Homo sapiens: one gene and its partners. Changing the gene in region 2 together with the main gene of any one other region gives a genetic interaction. Each region holds a gene or a part of one and is shown on either strand. Other genes may lie near its edges. The genes, in order: KSR1, MAP2K2, GPI, DCK, PNMT and TST.

What was found.
Region 1: changes in MAP2K2 (region 2) and KSR1 together harm fitness more than expected from each alone (negative genetic interaction), as found in Homo sapiens cells (one large-scale study listed by BioGRID).
Region 3: changes in MAP2K2 (region 2) and GPI together harm fitness more than expected from each alone (negative genetic interaction), as found in Homo sapiens cells (one large-scale study listed by BioGRID).
Region 4: changes in MAP2K2 (region 2) and DCK together harm fitness less than expected from each alone (positive genetic interaction), as found in Homo sapiens cells (one large-scale study listed by BioGRID).
Region 5: changes in MAP2K2 (region 2) and PNMT together harm fitness more than expected from each alone (negative genetic interaction), as found in Homo sapiens cells (one large-scale study listed by BioGRID).
Region 6: changes in MAP2K2 (region 2) and TST together harm fitness more than expected from each alone (negative genetic interaction), as found in Homo sapiens cells (one large-scale study listed by BioGRID).

What each region holds. Positions count from the first base shown.
Region 1 is NC_000017.11:27,623,692-27,626,935, forward strand, and holds the end of KSR1 (kinase suppressor of Ras 1), read left to right. Parts: 3' UTR 1-2,744; downstream 2,745-3,244.
Region 2 is NC_000019.10:4,100,123-4,103,622, reverse strand, and holds part of MAP2K2 (dual specificity mitogen-activated protein kinase kinase 2), read left to right. Parts: intron 1-416; exon of another isoform or gene 417-806; intron 807-1,169; coding exon 1,170-1,247; intron 1,248-2,342; coding exon 2,343-2,394; intron 2,395-2,479; coding exon 2,480-2,604; intron 2,605-3,500. UniProt on the Homo sapiens protein: Catalyzes the concomitant phosphorylation of a threonine and a tyrosine residue in a Thr-Glu-Tyr sequence located in MAP kinases. Activates the ERK1 and ERK2 MAP kinases.
Region 3 is NC_000019.10:34,368,196-34,371,695, reverse strand, and holds part of GPI (glucose-6-phosphate isomerase), read right to left. Parts: intron 3,114-3,500; coding exon 2,994-3,113; intron 1-2,993. UniProt on the Homo sapiens protein: In the cytoplasm, catalyzes the conversion of glucose-6-phosphate to fructose-6-phosphate, the second step in glycolysis, and the reverse reaction during gluconeogenesis.
Region 4 is NC_000004.12:71,028,032-71,031,414, reverse strand, and holds the end of DCK (deoxycytidine kinase), read right to left. Parts: intron 2,064-3,383; coding exon 2,037-2,063; 3' UTR 501-2,036; downstream 1-500. UniProt on the Homo sapiens protein: Phosphorylates the deoxyribonucleosides deoxycytidine, deoxyguanosine and deoxyadenosine. Has broad substrate specificity, and does not display selectivity based on the chirality of the substrate.
Region 5 is NC_000017.11:39,667,209-39,670,975, reverse strand, and holds PNMT (phenylethanolamine N-methyltransferase), read right to left. Parts: upstream 2,524-3,767; 5' UTR 2,501-2,523; coding exon 2,299-2,500; exon of another isoform or gene 1,955-2,298; intron 1,348-1,954; coding exon 1,140-1,347; intron 1,026-1,139; coding exon 587-1,025; 3' UTR 501-586; downstream 1-500. UniProt on the Homo sapiens protein: Catalyzes the transmethylation of nonepinephrine (noradrenaline) to form epinephrine (adrenaline), using S-adenosyl-L-methionine as the methyl donor. Other substrates include phenylethanolamine and octopamine. Also methylates normetanephrine.
Region 6 is NC_000022.11:37,016,648-37,020,721, forward strand, and holds the start of TST (thiosulfate sulfurtransferase), read right to left. Parts: upstream 2,801-4,074; 5' UTR 2,753-2,800; intron 2,107-2,752; 5' UTR 2,086-2,106; coding exon 1,491-2,085; intron 1-1,490. Other genes in the region: MPST (3-mercaptopyruvate sulfurtransferase), read left to right, coding at 3,190-3,225.

The DNA of each region.
Region 1 (3,244 bases), on a different chromosome or scaffold from region 2:
AGATGCACTGGCACTGACGGCCAGGATGGCGGAAATGGCCATCCCCTCTGAGGACCTTGTAGGCGGTGAGGGACCCATGCTGGGCCAGAAGGAAGACAAACATGGTAATTGCAGCTGTTCTTGGGGTAGGGCGGGGAGCCCAGAAGGTCTGATCTGGCCTCTGCTTTTTGGCCCAAGACTCCATCAGGGAAATCTATCTAGGGCTCTCCCCTTGTCCTTTCAAAGGGATACTGCCCCTTCCTCGTCTTGCAGAGGAAACCCTGGCTAGGAACTGAGCTAGTTTATGGAGTCTGGAATTCCTGGAGAGCTTGGGTTCACCTTCTCACCCCTGTAATCCAGGCTGCTCCTGCTGGAAAAGTAGAAACAGAATCCAAAAAAGGTCTGGACTCACCCGGTGGTTCCCAGCCAGGGTTTCTGCTGCAAGGTGAGGAAACATCCATGGCTTGTACAGATGTGAGTCTTTGATGAAGCCCCCAGGCAGGCACCAAGGTGATGGGACTCAGGGCCTTGGCTTTTAGATACATCCCAGTCCCTGACTGACATCTGACCATGAGGGCTGGATGGGTGGGAACAAGGAGGAGTAGATGGCAAAAGTACCTGAGCCCACTTCCCAGCCACAGGGTGACCCTGGCACTGTAAAAACCCTTTGTCAGTCATGCCAGAAGGTTCTAGAACTGCCCACCTCTTCCATTTCAGTCCTGCTGAAACCCCTTAGCCTATTTCCGACTCCTCTGTCCATGCTCTGAGTTCAGCTGGGCAGTGTGTGGGCTATCACCCCTTTCATTTAGACCTACCTAGCTGGCCCCCATCTGCAGAGCCTTCCTTAGCACCATTAGGCCTTCTACTTGTGTCCATTTGAAGCAGGAGGGGCTGGATTTGGAAAAGTCTTTGAAGTGAGAGCACCACGCTTGTCTTCGTTAGAAACTCTTAACTGCAGAAAAAAGTTCCAGATGGCAAGGGAGCCCTTAAGTGGAGATTAGGTTGCATTAGACTCCAAAACCAGAAAGGAAAAAGGGTGATGGGAGTGGAGACGTGATTGGATTCAGGCCCAGAACCTGTGACCATGCTCTGAGCTCAGACTTGGGGAGGGAGGGGTGTGGCTCCCACCCCTTCCAGTTAAGACCTGCCTAGCAGAGCCCCAGTCTCCAGCCCCTTCCCTAGCACCAGAGTCTGGTCAAAATGCCACAGAAAATGAGCTGCTCTGCCAGCAAGCTGTGGAGCTGCCTCCTCTCCAGGCCTGGCATCCCTTGGTCAGCCCCTCCTGGGAGGGCACAGCCGTATTACAGTGCCAGTGTGCCTGGCCATCAGCATCTTCACCCTTCCCAGTCTGTGTGGGGAGGCTGTAAACCCCGTGGATTCAGCTCCGTGTGGAGTTTCTGTGCTATGGTGGGACTGCTCATTTTGCCCCATCATCCCTTTGGCCTCCCACACACCTGCCCCTTCCCAGGGATCACGTGTGTCTCCAGCCTTTCACCTTTCTATTGCAATGGTGGCCTTTGTCCAGGCAAGAGCAGGCCTGATGGATGTACTGGTGAGCCCCACAGTTGGATGTCAGCTCAGCCGTCCAACTGGGAGGAACAGTAGGCTCAGTTCCTCCCTGACCCCTGACACCAGGCCGCAGTGGGCATGCACAGGCCCACAGAAAGTCAGTCTGGGTTTTGCTTTTCTCGTGAGCATCACAGTTAAAGAAGCGCTCATTGAGCAACTACAGTGCACTTGGTCTTCTGCAAGTGCTGGGCACCTAGAGATAGGAACAGTCATGGTCCCTGCTCTTAAGGAACTGATGACCTGGTGGGGCCCTGTTGTCTTCAAGGAACCCAGAAGCCACTGGGCCCCAAAGGTGGAACTGAAGGACTGGGGGCAGCTGGCTCTCAGCCTGCCACCTCTGCACTGCCTGCCTTTAAAGAACCCCACCCCACCCCATGATGGCCCCCTCTGTTCCCCTTGTATTTCAGTGACTGTGAATTGAGGTTAGGAAGGCACACCTGCCCTTCTGTGTGCTCTCTCCACACGAAGGATGACAGATACTGTGAATTCAGCCCTCACGGCCAACTGTGAAGGGGATGGAGAAGGCTGGGAGGGCTCGGGGAGAGCTCTTAGGGGCTGCGGAAGTCCCCACGGGGGTCTGAGAGTGGAGCCCAAGCTTTGGCCCTCCAGGCATCCCCAGTTTCCAGCCTCACCTCTGAAGCCCTGCTGCCTTTAACCACCAGAGCCGCAGCCCCCTGGGTTTCTGTCTAACTCGAAGTCTTGAATCCTAGCTAGTTTGGGGTTGTGAGCAGTGTGTAGCAAAGTTGATCTCTCCATGTCACCAAATCAAAACACCCTCTGTCATCCTACGGCATTTCCTCTTGAGGTCACAGAGAGGAATGGCAAGCCCTGGAAACCTGTGTTATTCTGTGTTGATTTGGTGTGGGGGGAGGGTGGAGACGTAAATGTGAAGCCAGTTGGAGTTTGTGCTATGCAGCAGTGTTAGCCAGGATCTCATCAGCGTGCAAACCTAGCATCTTCTGTGGCCACAAGCCACACACTTGCTTTTTTTGAATGTGATGTAAAATTTGTACAGTAAAGTTTTTATATTTTCTATCAACTACATTTGTCTTCCAGACATGCTATTAATTTAAATTAAAATGGTTAGTATTAACAAACATGCTGTATCGGGTTTTTTTGCCACTGGCAAGAACATGCCCTCTGTGCTAAGCCAGGCCTGGGTGTCTGGAGTTTGTGAATAAAGTTATACCAAGGTGTTCTGGGGCTTGTCTTTGCTTTGGTCAGTTCCAGCTGAGTCCTGGGGACCATTTGGATGGGTGGCATGGGAATGGATAGGTCTGGGGTGACTGAACCCCTGGTCTATAGATTAAGGAGCTCCTTCCAAAGGAAGAAGTTATGCCAGGACCTCAGTGGCAGGTGTTTCTAAACAGATGGAGGAATGGAGAAGGCACAGCGTCAATGGCCCACAATGCGCAGAGGAAGATCATCCAGGCCCCAGCAGCAACAAAGCCATGAGCAGGCCCAGCATCTCCTGAGCTGGAGATGCCTTAGCCTTATGGAAGCCTTGGAGGGATGAGGTGGTGTTCATCTGAATCCAATATCTAGGAGCCCCTCATTGCCAGTTATATATACAGATAGGTGGAGAAGAGGTACTTTCTAAACACCATCTCACTTTAATCCTCACAAGGCCATGAGGTAAGAATTGTGATGTTTCAGCTGAGGAAAATGAGAAACGGAGAGGTTAAGGTATTCACCC
Region 2 (3,500 bases):
ATCCCAGGGAAGGCTGGGCTTTTGCAGGAGTCCTGGAGCAGCATGGTGGGGAAATCCAGGCTCCCCAGCCAGCCTCTCCAGGCTCCTCCAGCCCGCCCTCTCTAGCCTCAGTTCCACTTTCCTCTCTGCTGAGCACAGAAGAGACGCACGCCAGACGGTGGCAGTGGGAACTTGGCCTGTCACCCCTGCTGTCCTGGGGGTGGCCTGGCAGGTGTGTCCGGAGCCTCTGCCTCTGAAGAGGCACCTTGGGTGGCTCCCAGTGCCTGGGGTTTTGGCATTTGGGGGTTTTGGTCCCCAGGTTTGTTGCCAGGCAGCCTTGGGCAAGACATGGAATTTCTGTTTCATCATTTATGACATGGATGTGGGGCCACACCCGGGGACCAGCCTACCCATGATGACTCGTTTCCAGGCCCTCCGCAGGATGCCCGGCACAGTGGCGAGGAGACCACAGGCTGTGGGGAGGGGCCGAGGTTACCGTCACCTGGGCTGGCGTCACTGGGATCCCTCCTGCAGTCCATGCACCCCCTGGCCCCTGGTCCTACTCGGCCTGGCCTTTCTGCCCTAGGTGGCAGGGACAGGCGCAGGGCAGACGCCCAGCAGTGGAGCCGCAGGGCTTGGCGAGGGAGCCCCCTGGGGGTCTGGACGGGCACACAGCGACCCGCCGCCTCCTCCCACGCGGGGCAGCACCCGCGTCTCCTCCGCGCCCTCACCCTCCCCTTCCCTTCGTGTGCTGGGAAGAGGACGCAGGCCCAAGACGCTGGTCTCCAGCCTGGCCGCCTCCCGTGGCGCACAGACAAGCCCACCACGTAGGCTGCAGGGAGTGCGGGCCCCACAGCTGCCTGAGCCCCCGGCCGCGGCTTGGGCTGGCCCGGAGCAGAGCCTCTGCCGTGGCGACCTCAGGAGGGCCGAGTCACGCAACTGATTCGAGGATGGGACGGGAGGCGGGGGAACCCTGGGCCCTGTTCCTTCCCCACCTTGTGGGTGGGTGTTCAGACCCAAAGGCAGAACTGTCAGAAGACGCCCTGCCCTTGGCCCGTGGGTGGAGTTGGGCTCCGGCCCCTGCTTCCCGTCAGGAGGCAGACCACCCCCTCGCCGGGAGTGGGGGGACGCATCCGTGGCTTCCCGGCCACCTGCGCAGAGCCTGCACTCACTCCTTGTGTGCCCTCTAGGACGGCGGCTCCCTGGACCAGGTGCTGAAAGAGGCCAAGAGGATTCCCGAGGAGATCCTGGGGAAAGTCAGCATCGCGGTGAGTCCACCGCAGACCCACATCGCGCCCCCACCGCACTCTGCACGGACCTCTTCCACACGGCCAGGGTTCCGGGAGCCACTCACAGTGTGGTGGGGGTTAGGGTGGCCCCTGCAGAAAGAGAGTGGCCAAGGCTGTGCCCACCTGCTGTGGAGCTTGAACAAGTGACGTCCCTTTTGGGGCCTGAGGTCACCATCTGCCAAGTGAAGACGTTATAGGTCCCTCTTCACTCTTAGTATCCTCTGTTTGCCACACTGGTCCCCTCTGCCCCTCGTGGCAGGGGGATGTTGGCAGCTGGCACGTTGCAGGGGACAGGAGCTTGTTGAAAGGGAGACTCTGGGGTGGGATGTGGGACGCCAGGACCTCCAGACACACTCACCATTGCTGTTAGAAATGTCACCGGGGCCAAGGGCGTCTCTGCTGCCCGGTCTCCAGCACAGCTGCTCCGTAGAGCCGTGTGGTTTCAGCAGACCGTGCGTGTTGCTTCTTGGAGCTTGCACCTTGTCCATAGCAGGGGCCGAGTCCCGCCTGCCCATACCAGTGTTGGATTAAGACACAGGACGCATGCTGCCAGACACGCGTTTCCGAGTTGAAAGCTGCCGTCACACTGCCTGTGCTGCTTGCTTCACTTCTCGGGATGCTGCTTCCAGGGCGGGCCTGGGGGAAACATCGTCCTTCCCAGGCACCCTTAGCCCGTCCCATCTGGGGGCCCTTAGCACAGTCCCTGGGACCCCAGATGCTGCCTTTCAGGCTGATGTGGGCAAACTCGGCAGCCCAGCCTACTCCCGGGCCATGGGCCACCATCTCAGCTTCCCTGGGGCTAAGCCGTGTGCTCTGAATCAAAGGCAGTAGTGGCATCGGCGGCACTGCGGCCATGGGAACCGGGGTTGACTTGCACACGCCAGCACAGGGCTGTCAGCACTGTCTCGTCTCTGGCCTCGCTTGCTCCACCCCAGCGAGCTCCTCACAGCCTGAAATGGTTCCTGCCGCAGCTCCCTCGCTCCAGCTCTGACTGCTCAGCTCTGACCCCCGGGCTCGGTCAGGAGCTAAGCCCTGGTGGCCTTGTCCCGTGACTCCCTCCGCGCTCCCCTGCAGGTTCTCCGGGGCTTGGCGTACCTCCGAGAGAAGCACCAGATCATGCACCGAGGTAAGGCCCAGCCCGCCCTCCCCAGAGCCCCGGGGGCCGGCAGGCAACTGTTGGGCGCCCCTCACCCGCAGCCTGCCGCCTCCAGATGTGAAGCCCTCCAACATCCTCGTGAACTCTAGAGGGGAGATCAAGCTGTGTGACTTCGGGGTGAGCGGCCAGCTCATCGACTCCATGGCCAACTCCTTCGTGGGCACGCGCTCCTACATGGCTGTGAGTCCCCGCTGGCTCTCCCCTCCAGCTCTCCTCCCTGCTGCTCTCCCCCAAGCTCTCCCCACCCAGCTCTGCCAGCCAGCTCTCCCCCTCAGCTCTCACCCCCATGTCTCCTGCGCAGCTGTCCCTCCCAGTTCTCCTGCGCAGCTCTCCCCGCCTCCCACGAGGCTTTCCCAACTATTTCGTGGGCACACACTCCTACATGGCTGTTAGCACCCCCGGGACAGTCCCACCCCAGCTGCACCCTCCCCTTCATCAGCTCTCCCCACTTGCCACAAGGCACGTCTAAAGCTGGTGCCTCCTGGGAGCCTGCTTTTCGGATTCCCCTTGCTCTTTATTTTTTATTTGTTAATTTACTAATCTTTTGTAGACACGGGGTCTCGCTGTATTGCCCAGGCTGCTCATGAACTCCTGGACTCAAGTGACCTTCTTTCCTCAGCCTCCCAAAGTGCTGGGATTCCACTAGCAGTGAGCCTGAGCCACCACGCCCGGCCAGATCTCCCCTTCCTGTTGGAATTCTCTCTTAGGTTTTTGTCTCTAGCAGTGCCTACCAGGTTTCTTTCTTTTTTTTTTTTTTTTTTTTTTTTTTGAGACAGAGTCTTGCTCTGTCACCCAGGCTGGAGTGCAATGGCACAATCTTGGCTCATTGCAACCTCCGCCTCCCACCCGGGAGCAATTCTCCTGCCTCAGCCTTCCAAGCAGCTGGGGCTACAGGCATGTGCCACCACAGCTGGGTAATTTGGTTTTTGTTTTTGTTGTTGTTGTTGTTTTTTGAGACACAGTCTCACACTCTCACCCAGGCTGGAGTGCAGTGGCGCCATCTCCGCTCACTGCAAGCTCCGCCTCCCGGATTCACACCATTCTCCTGCCTCAGCCTCCCGAGTAGCTGGGACTAC
Region 3 (3,500 bases), about 30 Mb from region 2:
TTTTTTTTTAGTAGAGATGGGGTTTCATTATGTTGGCCAGGCTTGTCTTGAACTCCTGACCTCGTGATCCACCCACCTCGGCCTCCCAAGGTGCTGGGATTACAGGTGTGAGCCACTGCACCAAGCCAAATGTGTCTATCTTTATTACAATTACACCCAGCCTTCATTTGACCAAATGAGTCTTTACCATACCCACCAATTCTGCAACTTCCTTTTTCAACTTCCCAGTCCATCCTGAACAGCATGGCAGATCAATCCAACTATAGCTCCCTAATCCCTATTGGTGCCCAGGATGACAGTATATGAATATGTGCTGACTCTACTTTGTAAGTCCCCTGACAAATGAGTACAGCTTGGTTTCAGGTTTTGCCACTACAATCAAGGTCACAGTGAACGTCTTCACCCAATCTTGGCAAACTTTGGAGAGCACAGCCATGGGGAATGTTCCTCACCAGGGGATTACTGCCATTCAGCAACTTTTTTTGAACTATAAATACCTTATCAGCCTGAGTCAGGTACTCCAGTGGCCAGCTTTAAGGGAAGGCTTTCCTGGAAACAGCACCCCAGACGGTGCAGTGCCATCCTCGCCATGTGGCATGGCTGAGCACACCCAGACTGATCACACAGCACTAGGCTTTTAATGCACTTCAGCTCTGCCACTCACAGCAGATGGCTGGAAAGGCCCCGCCACACACCCAAAGACCATCACATGGACTGATCACCCTAAGTGACATTCAGGAAATCCAGATTCCCATCAGGACCCCACAACTTCCTTGCCCTGGAGGCGTCTCACTCTGTCACCTGAGCTGGAGGACAGTGGCACAATCTCAGCTCAGTACAGACTCAACCTCCCGGGCTCAAGCAATCCTCCCACCCCAGCCTCCCAAGTAGCTGGGATACACCACCACACCTAGCTGATTTATTTATTTTTTCCAGAGATGGGTTGGTTTTTTTGTTGGTTTTTTTTTTTTGAGACAGAGCCTCACTCTGTCACCCAGGCTGGAGTGCAGTAGCGTGATCTTGGCTCACTGCAACCTCTGCCTCCCGGGTTCAAGAGATTCTCCTGCCTCAGCCTCCCCAGTAGCTGATATTACAGGTGCTCGCCACCATGCCCGCCCAGGTAATTTTTTTGTATTTTTAGTACAGACGGCGTTTCACCATGTTGATCAGGCTGATCTCAAACTCCCGACCTCACATGATCCACCTGCCTCAGCCTCCCAGAGTGCTGGGATTACAGGCGTGAGCCACTGCACCCAGCCCATTTTCAGGTCTGAAAGTGGCTCTTGGCCAAAGTAACTGGACTCTGACCAGCCACACATGGAGGCCACTGCTCCTAGGACAAGCAGCAAATGATCACAGCTGACAAGAGTTTGGACGATCACCCTCGTAGCATGCACAGCCCACACAGGCACACCGGCATCACCCTCGTTCTCCAGACGTGAGGATGTCTGCCAACCCACCCCTGCAGAATCACCGCTAGGGTAGACACTGAGGCAAGTGCTTGATGTGGGGAAACTTAGCTGGTCTCTGAGGCAACCCCTACCACCCTACACACAAGGAAAAGAAGGCATGTTACATGCACTGTCACTGACACACGGACACTGCTTACATACTTCCAGGTGGAAATAAGCTTCAGAGGAGCAGGGAGAAAACCAACCTGTGTGCATGTGCACATGTGTACGTGTTTCAAAGAGGAGATGACAGATGTGTATGTGCACAGGAACTTTCTGGAAGACTTCACAGGAAAACTTTTCTATTTTTTAAATTTATTTAGAGACACGATCTTGCTGTCGCCCAGGCTGCAGTGCAGTGGTGTCACCATGGCTCACTGCAGCCTCAACTTCCCAGGCTCAAGCCATCCTCCCACCTCAGCCTCCTGAATAGTTGGGAATAGAGGTATGAGCTGCTGCGCCTGGCTACAGGAAACTTTACAAAGGCTGCTTCTGGAGGGTTAGCTGGGAATGGGGATGAGGAAATTTTTTTTTTTTTTTGACAGAGTCTCCCTCTGTCGCCCAGGCTGGAGTGCAGTGGCGCAATCGCAGCTCACTGCAACCTCTGCCGCACGGGTTCAAGCGATTCTCCTGCCTCAGTCTCCCAAGTAGCTGGGATTGCAGGCGTATGTCACCAAAACTGGCTAATTTTTGTATTTTTAGTGGAGATGGGGTTTCACCATGATGGCCAGGCTGGTCTCGAACTCCTTACCTCAAGTGATCCACCCACCCCGGCCTCTCAAAGTTCAGGAATCACAGGCATGAGCCATCGCGCCCAGCCAGGGTTGAGGAAATTTTACAATGTTTTATCTGTTTCTAGACTGGGTGATAAGGGCGTATGACAAAAGAGATTAGAAAAAGCTCCTTCCGGCCAGGCGCAGTGGCTCATGCCTGTAATCCCAGGTGAGGCAGGCAGATCACCTGAGGTCAGGGGTTTGAGACCAGCCTGGCCAACATGGTGAAATCCCGTCTCTACTAAAAATACAAAAATTAGCTGAGCAGGGTGGCGCATAATTGTAATTCCAGCTACTCGGGAGGCTGAGGTAGGAGAATAGCTTGAATCCAGGAGGCGGAAGTTGCAGTGAGCTGAGATAGCACGACTGCAGTCCACTCTGGGCGAGAGAGTGAGACTCCATCTCAAAAAAAAAAAAAGAAAAAAGAAAAAGCTCCTTCCTTTCCTGACTGTCCTGTCTCTCAGGGGCCCCACTTTTCATTTGAAGCCTCTGTGGTTTGTCACCATGAGTCCATAGGTGTCTACAATTCAGGAAAGAAACTGGCCCCACTTCTGCCAGCAGCAGATTCCTTCAGAGCAGAGCCAGGAGAAATTCAGGCCTCAGCAGAGACTCCAGGGTCAGCGATCACACAGGCAACCCCTCCCTTAAGCTGCAGTGAGAACCTGAGTCCTGCCTACAAGAAGAGGGAAGAGCTGCCCCTTAGGGCTCCCAGATTCCCAAATAACTCACACACACGGCCAAGGGTGAGTCCGGCCCAGTAGCCACTTACCTGGCAGAAAGACTTCATCTTGTCCAGAACCTTGTTGACCTCTGGCATCACATCCTTGCCGTCTACCAGGATGGGTGTGTTTGACCGGTTCCGCAGAGCCACGTGCAGCACGGCTCGACCCTGGGGATTACGGTCAGGATATAAAGACTGCCCCCCCCAACCCCAGGCAGCCATGCTCCCAGCTGGGCATGGTGCCATAGCTCGGCCCTCTATCCACTAGACAGGCAGGCCCTGAGGTCTCTGTTAGCACCATAACCTTGTTCCAAGAACCCACTGTATGCTTAGAGGAGTAGGAGCTCCCCAAGGACTTATGTGCTGCAGACAGTCAGGAGGAGAGGAGGGGACCCATATATGCCTAGGACAGGCCCCGAAGGCCTGCCAGAGATGCTCAGGGCATGAACAGTGAGAGAAAAGAGGAACAGTGAGCAAAGGCAGAGAATGGCAACAATACATGTCAGAAACAAGCAATAAATGCTTTCAGAGGCCGGGCGCCATGGCTCACGCCTG
Region 4 (3,383 bases), on a different chromosome or scaffold from region 2:
AGTGGCTGAGGCAGTATTGCTTGAGCCCAGGAGTTTAAGACTACAGTAAACTATAACTGCGCCACTGTACTCCGGCCTAGGCAACAGAACAAGACCCTCTCTCAAAACAAAAAAAAAAAAAAAATTAAAAGAAGAGGTAAGTTAGTCAAATGAAGAAGGCTATTATTTACCAGACTTAATGTTGCAATGTATCTAGCATTTTTCAAAGGCAATAACATCTATATCTCTATTTTAGAAACATTTTACAACTCTGTTCTTTAACATATGACAGACTTAAGTTCTAGGTGGCTCGGTATAAGTTTCAAGTTTTAGGCATAGCAGAAGAGAAAATTCTGGATGAGAAAAATAAGTCTTGTATTATTAATTACCTTTCTAGGAGAGCAAACTATAAAGAGCAATAAATAAATTCTAATGGAAGACATGATATAGGTAATAGATCCAAGAGATAATCCAGACCACCATTAGGCTCAATTCTATTATGACCACCACACTGAGACAACTTTTGAGTCATGACAAATAAATAATAAATTTTTATTAGCGTCTTTTCAATTCTACAAATTTTAAAAGTCATTATACATTTTTAAAGGTTACTAAAAATCACTGAAATATGTCTCCACTTAAAATGGAATCAAAGTAATTTATACAATTTTCACCTTTAATATTCATAATTTATTTAAAAGTAGAATAAATTTTAATTCTAAAATGATTATTACATCTTTTTAGAACTGAAATTACATTTCAATGAGTGTAGCTCCACTGTAGTTCATAAGGTTTATACTTAAGAAATATTTAATTAACAAATTAATTTATACCAAACAAAAACAAACTAAAAAAATGCATACGTATAATGAGACAGTTTATGTATGGTAATTACAGATTTGAAATTAAGTCTCCTTTGCAAAGATCAGTGCGTCTGGACTGGTTAATCCACTAAATTATCATCTTTGAATAAGAAACCAAAAACAAAAATGACTTGGAAAGAAAAATAGTAGTTTAAAAGTGAAAATGACTCTTCCCCTTATTTTAAAATACATAAAATTTTCTAAAACGTAAAATGGAAAGGTTTAATACACAGGAAAAACACTGCACACCTTAACTAAACAAACTAGAAAGAAAATATATTTATATACAGAACTAAGATGAGTCCATTCATTATTTTTACAAATATTCACATAGATGGTTTAGAGATAAGTAGTTAAGTGTGTCTCATTAATTAATGGATGCTTTCTAGCCTCTGTCTTCATTAATTTTATTTCCTATTCAACAAAAAATAATGCTTTCAGGATATATTACATATAGAGCAATATCATTTTTATCAGTAATTTGTCTGAAAAAGAGAAAAACTTAAAAGCAGAACCCTACAAAGCAAAGCAAACTACAAAGCAAAGAGTAATCACAGTGTTTGCAAAATAGAAATGTGTGACTTTAACTTTATAGCAGGCTGCCTAATTAATCCAGACAGTAGAGAAAGCAGACTGAGGCAGGAAGTAAGAGGTGGGACTAAACTGTTAAGAAGATAATAATTTAAAATAAAACTTCAGAATCCTTATTCTAGGGATTCCTTTAATTCCACTTTGCAACTTTTAATAGGTACACTAATTTACACAGGACACACTACCATTTACTATGTAACATTAAAGCTTTCAGTTTAAGAAACTGGTCACCAACGAAGTGAGAGGCACCAGGGAAAAAAGCCAACCTGCTGAGGAAGACAAAAGAGGGGAATGACAGAAGGAAGCTGGATCTTTTATAATGTAGTTTAGTCACTATGCTGATACTGGAACCATCTACCTCTACATTTCCTGCTATGAGAAATAATGTCTTTGTCTTTAAATGTCTTTTTTAAAAAAAAAACAAAAGAAAAGAAACTGGTCAAAAAGTTTTGCATAAGATTCATTTTAAAAATCTTTTTTCCTTAAAACAAAAACGATTAAAAACTTGGGTTTTCTAAAGAAACTTATATTAATATGAAGTTACGAAGATACACAAAGCTGAAGTATCTGGAACCATTTGGCTGCCTGTAGTCTTCAGCAAGATCACAAAGTACTCAAAAACTCTTTGACCTGAGGAAAGGAAGAAAAAAAAATCAGTATAATTCCTTGACTAATTTGAGGTATCTAATATTCATCTTCATTTAAAAGTATATAATAGTTGAAGACCCCAGCTGTATAAGTAACTACCACAATGCCATTGCATTTACTTTCCAAAGAAATATTGTTAAGGCCGGGCGCAGCGGCTCATGCCTGTAATTCTAGCATTTTGGGAGGCCGAGATGGGTGGATCACTTAAGGTCAGGAGTTTCAGACCAGCCTGGCCAACATGGTGAAACCCCCCATCTCTACTAAAAACACAAAAATAGGCCAGGCGCAGTGGCTCATGCCTATAATCCCAGCACTTTGGGAGGCCGAGGCGGGCAGATCACCTGCGGTCAGGAGTTCGAGACCTGCCTGACCAACATGGAGAAACCCCTTCTCTACTAAAAATACAAAATTAGCCGGGCATAGTGGCACATGCCTGTAATCCCAGCTACTAGGGAGGCCAAGGCAGAAGAATCGCTTGAACCTGGGAGGCAGAGGTTGTGGTGAGCTGAGATCGCGCCATCGCACTCCAGCCTGGGCAACAAGAGCAAAACTCCGTCTCAAAAAAAAAAAAAAATTAGCTAGGCATGGAGGCGTGCACTTGTAATCCCACCTACTTAGGAGGCTGAGGCAGAACTGGTTGAACCTGGGAGGTGGAGATGGCAGTGAGCCAAGATTGTGCCATTGCACTCCAGCCTGGGCGACGGAGCAAGACTGTCTCGAGAAAAAAAAGAAATATTGTTAAATACTTCAGTAGTAAAAGATGAATGACCTAAAAGGTCATTTTAGGAGTTATTTATTGCTCTGTCACCCAGGCTGAGTACAGTGGTGCAATCAAAGCTCACTGCAGCCTTGAACTCCTGGCTAGGTGCACACCATCATGTCTGGCTAGTTTTTGTTTGTTTTTTATAGAGATGAGGTCTCACTATGTTGCCCAAGCTGGTCAGGAACTCCTGGGCTCAAGCAGTCTTCCCACCTCAGCCTCCCAAAGTGCTGGGATTACAGGTGTGAGCCACTGCATCTATCAATCTAAGATAGATATAGTTCTAAAATAGCTGTAACACCAATTTTATAATCTCTTCATTTAAATATCATAGACCACTGACATATGCAGCTTTAACACTGATAACATTAATAAGCACAATAGTTCAAGCAACTTTGAAAATCAAACATGTAGTAGATTTGTCATGTTTCTGAAGCACATATGTGAATCACATACTTTGCAATGTCAGTGTGTGCAGAAAATCATGTAAGGAGTCAATGAACCTAGCCTACTGACCATAATGTAAGAATATGCTTGTTCTC
Region 5 (3,767 bases), on a different chromosome or scaffold from region 2:
CAGGCCCCAGAGGCAGAGCTGGGCAGAACTCAAGTCCAGTTGTGAGAGGGAGCTGGAGCCAGTTCTTTCCCTTTCACTTCCCTCGGCCATTGTGCTTCAATCATAACACCCCCACCTCCCCACCACCTTGCAGATTCTACTTCCATCTCCTCATGATCCCCACTCTCCCTCGTTCTGGTCTGAAGCAGTCTGCACTGTTTGTGACTTCACCTCTCTGAGCTTCACCTGGAAACAGACTAGCAGGACCTGCTGCTGAATGCAGGAATGAATGATGCGATGGACACAATGGCATATCACAAGTGCCTGGTGCACTGCAGGTGCCCGGTGAGCTCCCCTGACCTTGGCCTTCCTTAGTTTGGGAAGAATGAGTGGTACAGAATGCTAGCCTCAAGGAAGCTTCTGGAAAAAAAGCCTAGGGTGAATGTCTCCCCTACCCGGACACTCAGATCTCTGGGCCCTTGCTGCTTCCCAGGAGAGCCACACACAGCACTGACCGCAGCGGCAGGGTATTATTTCTTTATTAGGTGCCACTTCAAAGAACAGGGAATCCAGGTGGGTGGGGGCCACAGGGCACCAGGTACAGCCCTCACAGCCCAACCTTCTGAGCCCAGGCGAAGAAGACGCCCTTGACATCATCTACGCCTGTCTGAAGGTGGGCAGGCATGATATAGGTGCGGAGGTCCCGGACCTTGTAGCCACTACGCACCAGGGCCTCCCTCACCTCCTCCTCAGACACTGGCACCACCGTCAGCCTGGCCTCCCCAGCCAGGTACCACGACTCCTCCAGGGCCCCGATGAGGAGGAGGTGCCCCCCAGGCCTCAGCAGCGTGGTGATGTGGTCCAGGGCCCGCTGAAAGCTGGCAAGATCTGGGCTCACAGCCTCCAAGCAGAAGGCAGAGACCAGGGCGTCAGCAGGCAGGGGAGCTGGGCTCCCAGCACCCAGGGGCTGGGGCTGGTGCACGTCGATGGGCAGGACCCGTTTCACCCTGGCTCGCAGCTGGCGCTCCTTATCCTGCCAGCATTCCCTGTGCAGGAGGCACAAGGCAGGGCTCAAGGCTGTTCTACGCTCAGGCCTCTGTTGCCCCAACCAGCCACTCTATGGGAAGCCTCCTCCCCAACCCTCACCCCCCAGTCCTTACCCCTTGCCCTCAATGAGGCAGGCATGTTGGCTGTACATGCTCCAGTTGAAGGCCCCCGGCTCCTCCTGCAGCCAGCGCCCCAGCTCCTGGCGGTTGACCTCCAGGAAATCTGTCATGGTGATGTCCTCAAAGTGGCTGCAGGCACTGAGCAGCTGGTACACGGTGGGGCCTGAACCAATGTCGATGAGGGTGCGTCCGGACACTTCACCTGGGCAGGGCAGAGGAAGAGGGTCCTGGTGCCAGCCAGCCCAGGCAGCCCCTGCCTCCTTACCCTTCCCTCCCCTGCATCTCCCTGCCTCTCTCTAGTTCTTCCTTCTCCTCTGCAAATGTGTCTCCATCTGGAAAAAGCATTGGCCCCAGAGTTAGACTGAACCCAGCTCCAACATGGGCTGCCCTTCGGAAGGGAACTTCACCGCTCTGAGACTCAGGTTTCACATCTAGAAGACTATACCTACTGGCCGGGCGCAGTGGCTCACACCTGTAATCCCAGCACTTTGGGAGGCCGGGGTGGGTGGATCCTAAGGTTGGGAGTTCGAGACCAGCCTGACCAACATGGAGAAGTCCCGTCTCTACTAAAAATACAAATAAATTAGCCAGGCATGGGGGCGCATGCCTGTAATCCCAGCTACTAGGGAAGCTGAGGCAAGAGAATCGCTTGAACCGGGGAGGCGGAGGTTGCAGTGAGCCGAGATGGCGCCATTGTACTCCAGCCTGGGCAACAAGAGCGAAACTCCGTCTCAAAACAAATAAAAAATAAAAATAAGTAAATAAATGAAAATAAAATAAAGAAAAAGAAAGAAAACAACTATACCTACCAGCCAGGCTCAGCGAGGAAATCCTGGCAGTTTCTCACCCCTGTCCCACATCTGCCTCCATTTCCTCCTATGCATCTCCACCTCAGTCTGTCCTGCATCCCCCACCTTAGCTCTCAATTCTGAGCACTCTCCGCCCCCTCTCTCCACCTCTCTCTCCTCTGCCCCTCTCCTAAGGGATGTTGCTCTTTTTTCTCTTCTGTTTGCACCTCTCAGCTATCTCTTGTTTCTTGGTCCCCATCTGTTAGGCGCCTGGTCTGTCTCCCTTTCCTTCTTTTTATTTCCCTGCGCCTGCTTTCACTCCCCGACGACCTCTTGTCCCTCGTGCCTCAGTTTCCCCCGCTCACCGGTGGCGAAGGTCTGCGCCAAGCAGCGCAGCTTCCACGGCCCGACGCCGTTCGGGTTGCACAGGTCCCCGCGAGGGGGCGCGTAGTTGTTGCGGAGGTAGGCGCGCGGCTCGAAGCGCTGGTAGGCCGAAGCCACCGCCGCCTGGCCCGGGGCCGAGTCAGGGGCTGCGCCCGCATTGGGGCTACGGTCTGCGCCGCTCATGCTGCCGCCGCGGTCCGCCCAGTGCCCCGCTCGCCTCGCGGCCCTTTTTTCTACCGCCCGACCCCCGCCCCGACCGGTCCGCTGTGGGGGCGGCAGCTGACCGCCGAGCCGCCCGGGGCCATGTGCGCCGCATCCTCCCCACCCATTCATCCATCTCCCTTAGTGTCCGGGCTGCAGACACACCGGAGGTGAGTGGGGCGGCGGCTGCAGCGGCAATCGTCCCCCACACCCCCGGCTCCGTACTTGCTCCCGCAGCCCTCGCCCTCCGCCTCGCCTGCCCCGCCCCGAGTCCCGCCTCTGGGCGCCCCCCACCCTCAGTTCCTCACCCCCACAATCTTTAGACCCCCTCACCCCCGCCGGCCGGCCCCTCCCATCTCTCTTCTCCAGCCCCCCGCAGCCATTCACCTCTTTTGCCCAGCAGCCCGCCCCTTCTCTTTCCTGATTCGAGGTGGAGACTGGGGAATTAGGCCCTTTCCCCAGTTTCCCCCTCGCAGCGCCCTCCGCGACGAGGCCCCAGACCCCGCCAGGCTCCCCTCCCTCCCGGACACCCGTCCCAGCACCCACCCTTCCCTTAGAACTGCCACACAACTCCCCCTCCCCGCCCCTCCTCCAGGCCTCTCTCGTCCGTTGCTATGCCACCGGGCCCTCCAGCGACACCCCCTCCCCACCCCGCCCCAGAAAGGACAGTCCGTTCCGGCCTCCGCTGTGGTCGCTCCGGGGGCCCCAGAGCAGGGCGCGGCACTGCCCGTCCGATGGCAGGCGCGATAGGGGAGGTGAGCTGTGCTAATGCACTTAGCGGGCGGAACAGCCGGGCCTCCCCTGCGGGCCCCGCGGGTTCCCAGCCGCTTATCTGGGGGCTCCCGAGGACAGAAGGTTCGGGTTCGGGTTGTTCCCGCCACTTCGGGGGCGGCGCCGGACCCGGGTGAGGGCAGAGGGCTTGGGCAGGGGAGGGGCAGGACGCATTCGCGGAGGGCCGCCGGGGCCACCGGGGAGCGCAGTCCGGGCCTTGGGGCCCAGCCGATTTGGGGTCCTGCGGATGTAGGGGCTCTGACCCCACTCCTCTCGCAGCCCACCCTCCAGCTTCCCTCCGAAGGAGCGGCCAGGCCAGGCATGAAGATTCTGCTCAGCACCCCAGGTTCTGGCTGTCAAAATGCCAGGGTCTCCCCACCTATCTCCCAGATGGGAAGCCAATTCTGCCTGTGGCATCTCCGTGGTCTTCCTGAAGACCCCTTCCTTCCCCTCTGGATGAGTCCCGGGCCCTTCTGCC
Region 6 (4,074 bases), on a different chromosome or scaffold from region 2:
TGACAGCTTAAATCCCAAGGAGAAGAGGCGTCTTGAACCAAGGCCAGGAGAGGGCTGCAGGCGTTCCCAGCCAGGATTCTCTGGGAGGTGCCAAATGAACTTGAATCTTCAACTCCAGACCTTCAGAGAGCAAGCAGGCAAGAAAAATATGGGGCCTGGAAAAAGCTGCGCTGGAAAGGGCAGAGACCCTGCTGTCCTGGCTCTGTCACTAACTAGCTATGCGGCCTTGGCCCCTGCCTCTGTGCACCTCAGTCTCCCCTCTGTCAGGTGAGGTCACCGTTCAGGCCCTCCAGCTCTAAGAGTGTGCAGAACAGTTTTCCCAGCATTCTCTCTGTAGGAGGTACAGACAGGAAGAGATGTTTTTCAACAAGTCAGGCAAAATGTTGCACACGAGTTAGATTCTGTAGAGAAGGAGCTCTGACTGAGGAAAGAGCCACCAAGGAGGTGCCCAGAGACAAGAGAGGGCCCTGCTCCTGGAAATGGCCAGGCAGGGACTGGAGGGCACTCAGCAGGAGTGATGGCAGCGAGACGGCAGTCCTGCCTCTAGAAAAGGGAAGACCTCCGAGGTTCTGTCTGGCTAGGAGGTTCTAGAACTCAGCATTTCCTCTCCTGAGGCTCTCCCCAACCCTCAAGCAGTATCCAATCCACCTGGCCTTCCCTTCCACAGGAGGGGAACTTCTGAGTCGCCTTCCTGGGGCAACTAGCAGAGGGGACTCCCTCCTGGCCCTGGGAAGTAGGGGTAGGGCAGCATTGGGTGCGTCCTGGTTTATAGCCCTGGTTTGAAACAAGGCAGCATTGGATTCGAATCCTGCCTTCCACCACTTTATGTCCTGGCATCTCAGTCCCCCCACCCCCCGCTGCCAAAACAGGGGCATTGAGCTTTGTTCGCTGAGATAATGCGGTGCCAAGTGTCTGGCATGAAATGGCAGCTGCTGTTACAACTCTGCCGACGGGCTGCAGCTGCCTGGAAAGGTTATGGAACCTTTGCAAACAGCAGGCAGGGGCCCCAGGAGAGCTAGATTTGGGGAGAGGGGGATCCTGCGGGGAGGGACACTGTTGATGTCTATAAGGGTTTCTGCGGGACGAGAGAGGCCTGGAGAAGCTGGATGTGTCCGTGGGAGGTTTCTGTACAGCAATGCAAACGCTGGCTCAGGGGCATGACACCCTTAGGTATATCCTAGTACATGTGGGGCAGCTGGTGCCTGGGAGTGGAGGTGGTGGACATGTCACCAGTGACTTCTGCTCACACAGATGCTAGGTGGCTTCTTAGCACATGGCTATGAGGACACATTCTTGGGTCCTTGTGCATCCAAGCTGAAAAAGCCTTTAGGTTTGTCTCCACTTTCTGGTTTTATCGATGGAAAGACTGAGGCCTACATGGGAGGATTGAAGGCATGGGACGGACCCTGGAGAGGGTCCCAGTCATCCTTACTCCCTATCCTTCCATGGGGCAATACTCCCCAGGGACCACCCAGCACTGGGACACCTACCTACTGCATCCGGCTCCGGCTCGGTGCCCAGGAACCGCCCTTGAGACCTTGAATCCACCAGCTGGAACCTCTTAGATTCAAGGTTCTCCAGCACCTGCTCGTAGGTCTTGAGCAGGGAGCGGTCCAGTGTGGCTTTGAAGACGGCCGGTTCTGGGCGTGAGGGCTCGGATGTCACCGGGTGGCCCTCCTTCAGCCAGTTCCGGAAGCCACCATTGAGCACTGATACGGTGCGGTGGCCAAACACACGGAACATCCACCAGACCCGGGGAGCATAGAAGCTGCCCAGGTGTTCACCATCATACACCACCACGTGCGTGTGGTTGCTGATGCCCAGGCGGCCCACATACTCGGCGAAGCCAGCCTCGCTGGGCAGCATCATCTCGTAGGGCGACGCCGTGTCCCGGCACTCTTCTATGTCAAAGAAAGAGGCGCCGGGTACGTGGCGCTCGAGGTACTCCTTGCGGGCCTCTCGGGTGCCTGGTGAGTACCAGGACGCGTCCAGCACCCGCAGGCCGGGCCCCAGCTTGCCAGTCCTGATGGACTCCGCCAGCCACTTGGTGGAGACCAGCGCCCGGTAGAGCACCTGATGAACCATGGCTTCAGCTCTGCGTGTCACCTGGCACGGGTGGGAACCAGGAAAGAGAGACAGGCGTGAGGAAGGAAGTCGGTGTGTGCAGTAGGGTGAGGCCTGGGAGAAGCTCTTTCTCCCTCCGCACTCCCCCGGGTTCCTTGTTTACAGCAAGCCAGCGAGGCTGGGGCGTGCAGCGGGATAAGTTTGCAGATTCCCTCTGGAAAGCCGGCCCCGCCCCTCCCAGCCGGCCCGGGGGCCCAGCGCAGAAGCGGGTGGGGCAAGAGTTTCCGAGGACTCCAAGTAGGGGCGCTTCCTGGGGCGGGGATCTGGCTCCTAGAAGTTACAGTACTCGATCCCGCCAGGAAAGAGCAATGAAAGCATGCCCGGGATGGGGGGCGATGGCATCTTGGGCTTAGAATCCCCTTTCCTTCCAAGGCAGAGGGGGTGGGCGCACGGCTAGGAAGCTCCGCGAGCCGCGCACACGCCATCGCCTGCGGCCTCCCCAGGCAGCCCGAGCTCGCCCGCCTCCAGAGTGCCCGAGTCCGGCCCGTAGCTCGCTGCCCTCTGCCCTAGGTGGATCAGGGGTTCCCGGGGCACCCCGTCCCACTCTCGCAACGCTATCCTTCCCCGGGCAGCAGGTGGCCCGACCGGCGGCCCAGGCGCCCGGCCGCTGCCCCCGCCCCGCACTCACTCGCCCCGGACGCCGCGCTGGCGCTCGCCCCGGCCGGCTGGAGAAGTTGGCCGGTTCAAACCCCCGGCCGCAGCTCCCCAGGCGGCGCGCACCATCGCGCCACCGCCAGAGGGGGACCCTGCGCCGCCCGCCGCCATCCCGCGCCTCCCCCGCGCGGCCGCTTCGCGCCCGGCACCTGCCAACCTCGCGCGCGGGGCCTCCGGGACCCGCGGGGGTCTGAGGGGGACGCCGGGTGGCGCGGGGGCCGCGCGGGCCTGGGCTGGGCGGAGCGGGCGTACCCCCACGGCCCGGCCAGTGGAAGGCGCGGGCAGCAGCGGCTCCGAGTGGCCGCGGCGGTGGGCTGTGCCGGAGTCTCCTCCCTTTGGTCCGCTGCAGGTTGGTGGCGGGAGGAGGGGACAGCTGCGGGCGCGGGGAGGGGGCGCCGCGCCGCGGGGGCCATGGCGGAGCCAGGAAGCCGGGAGTCCGAGACCCGGGTAACTGCCGCGGCGTGGCGGCTTGCCTTTCTGGAGGGGGAGGGAGTGGCTCTTTGGGGGTGCTCGGCGCGGGGCTCCCGCGCGGGACCTGGGCGGAAGAGGGGGCTTAGTCTAGGAGAGAAGGCGCGCCGCTACGTTGGCACTAAGGGTGACTGTCCGCTTGGGGCGGCCTGCCGGGTGGGGTCGTGGCGAGTGGCGGGTGGGGAGCCTTGGGTGGAAGTGGGTGACCTGGTGGCACCAGAGAGGGCGGGGGAGAGAGAGGAGGACAGGGAGACGAGACCCCGCTGACCCAGAGGCCCCAGGAAGAGACACTAGCCAATAACTTGTTAGTGAGTGAAAGGAACTAACATTGTCCAGCCCTGCTTGGTGTGGCACTTTGCTGGGTACTCCCGTGGTGTGACTTAATTCCCACAATAACCCTGAGGAGTAGGCCAGAAACTTACTAAGACAGGAGAGAGCGGCAGAGCGAGTTGCTGGAGGACACACCCAGAGTTGAGGCCGGGCCTGATCCCTGGTCTGAAGCCCACGTGGTACCAGCTGCCTTTGTTTACCTGGCTCTTCCCTGAAGGTTCATGCTTTTTAAAAAATTGCCTGTTTTGAACTTAGCCCGTTTAATCATAAGTTGATGTAATTCAATTTTTAATAATAGCTGTATTTAACAACCAGTTGGCAAAATTCCTGAAAAGCTCGCCATGGGCTCTTGCAAACTGGGGGACACCATTGCCCCTCCCTAGCTTTTGCAGAGGCCAGCCTGGAAGCTTTCCCTGTTTCCCAACCCTGACCTTTTGTTTTGTTTTGTTTTTTGAGACAGGCTGTGGTTCTGTGGCCCAGACTGGAGTGCAGTGGCGC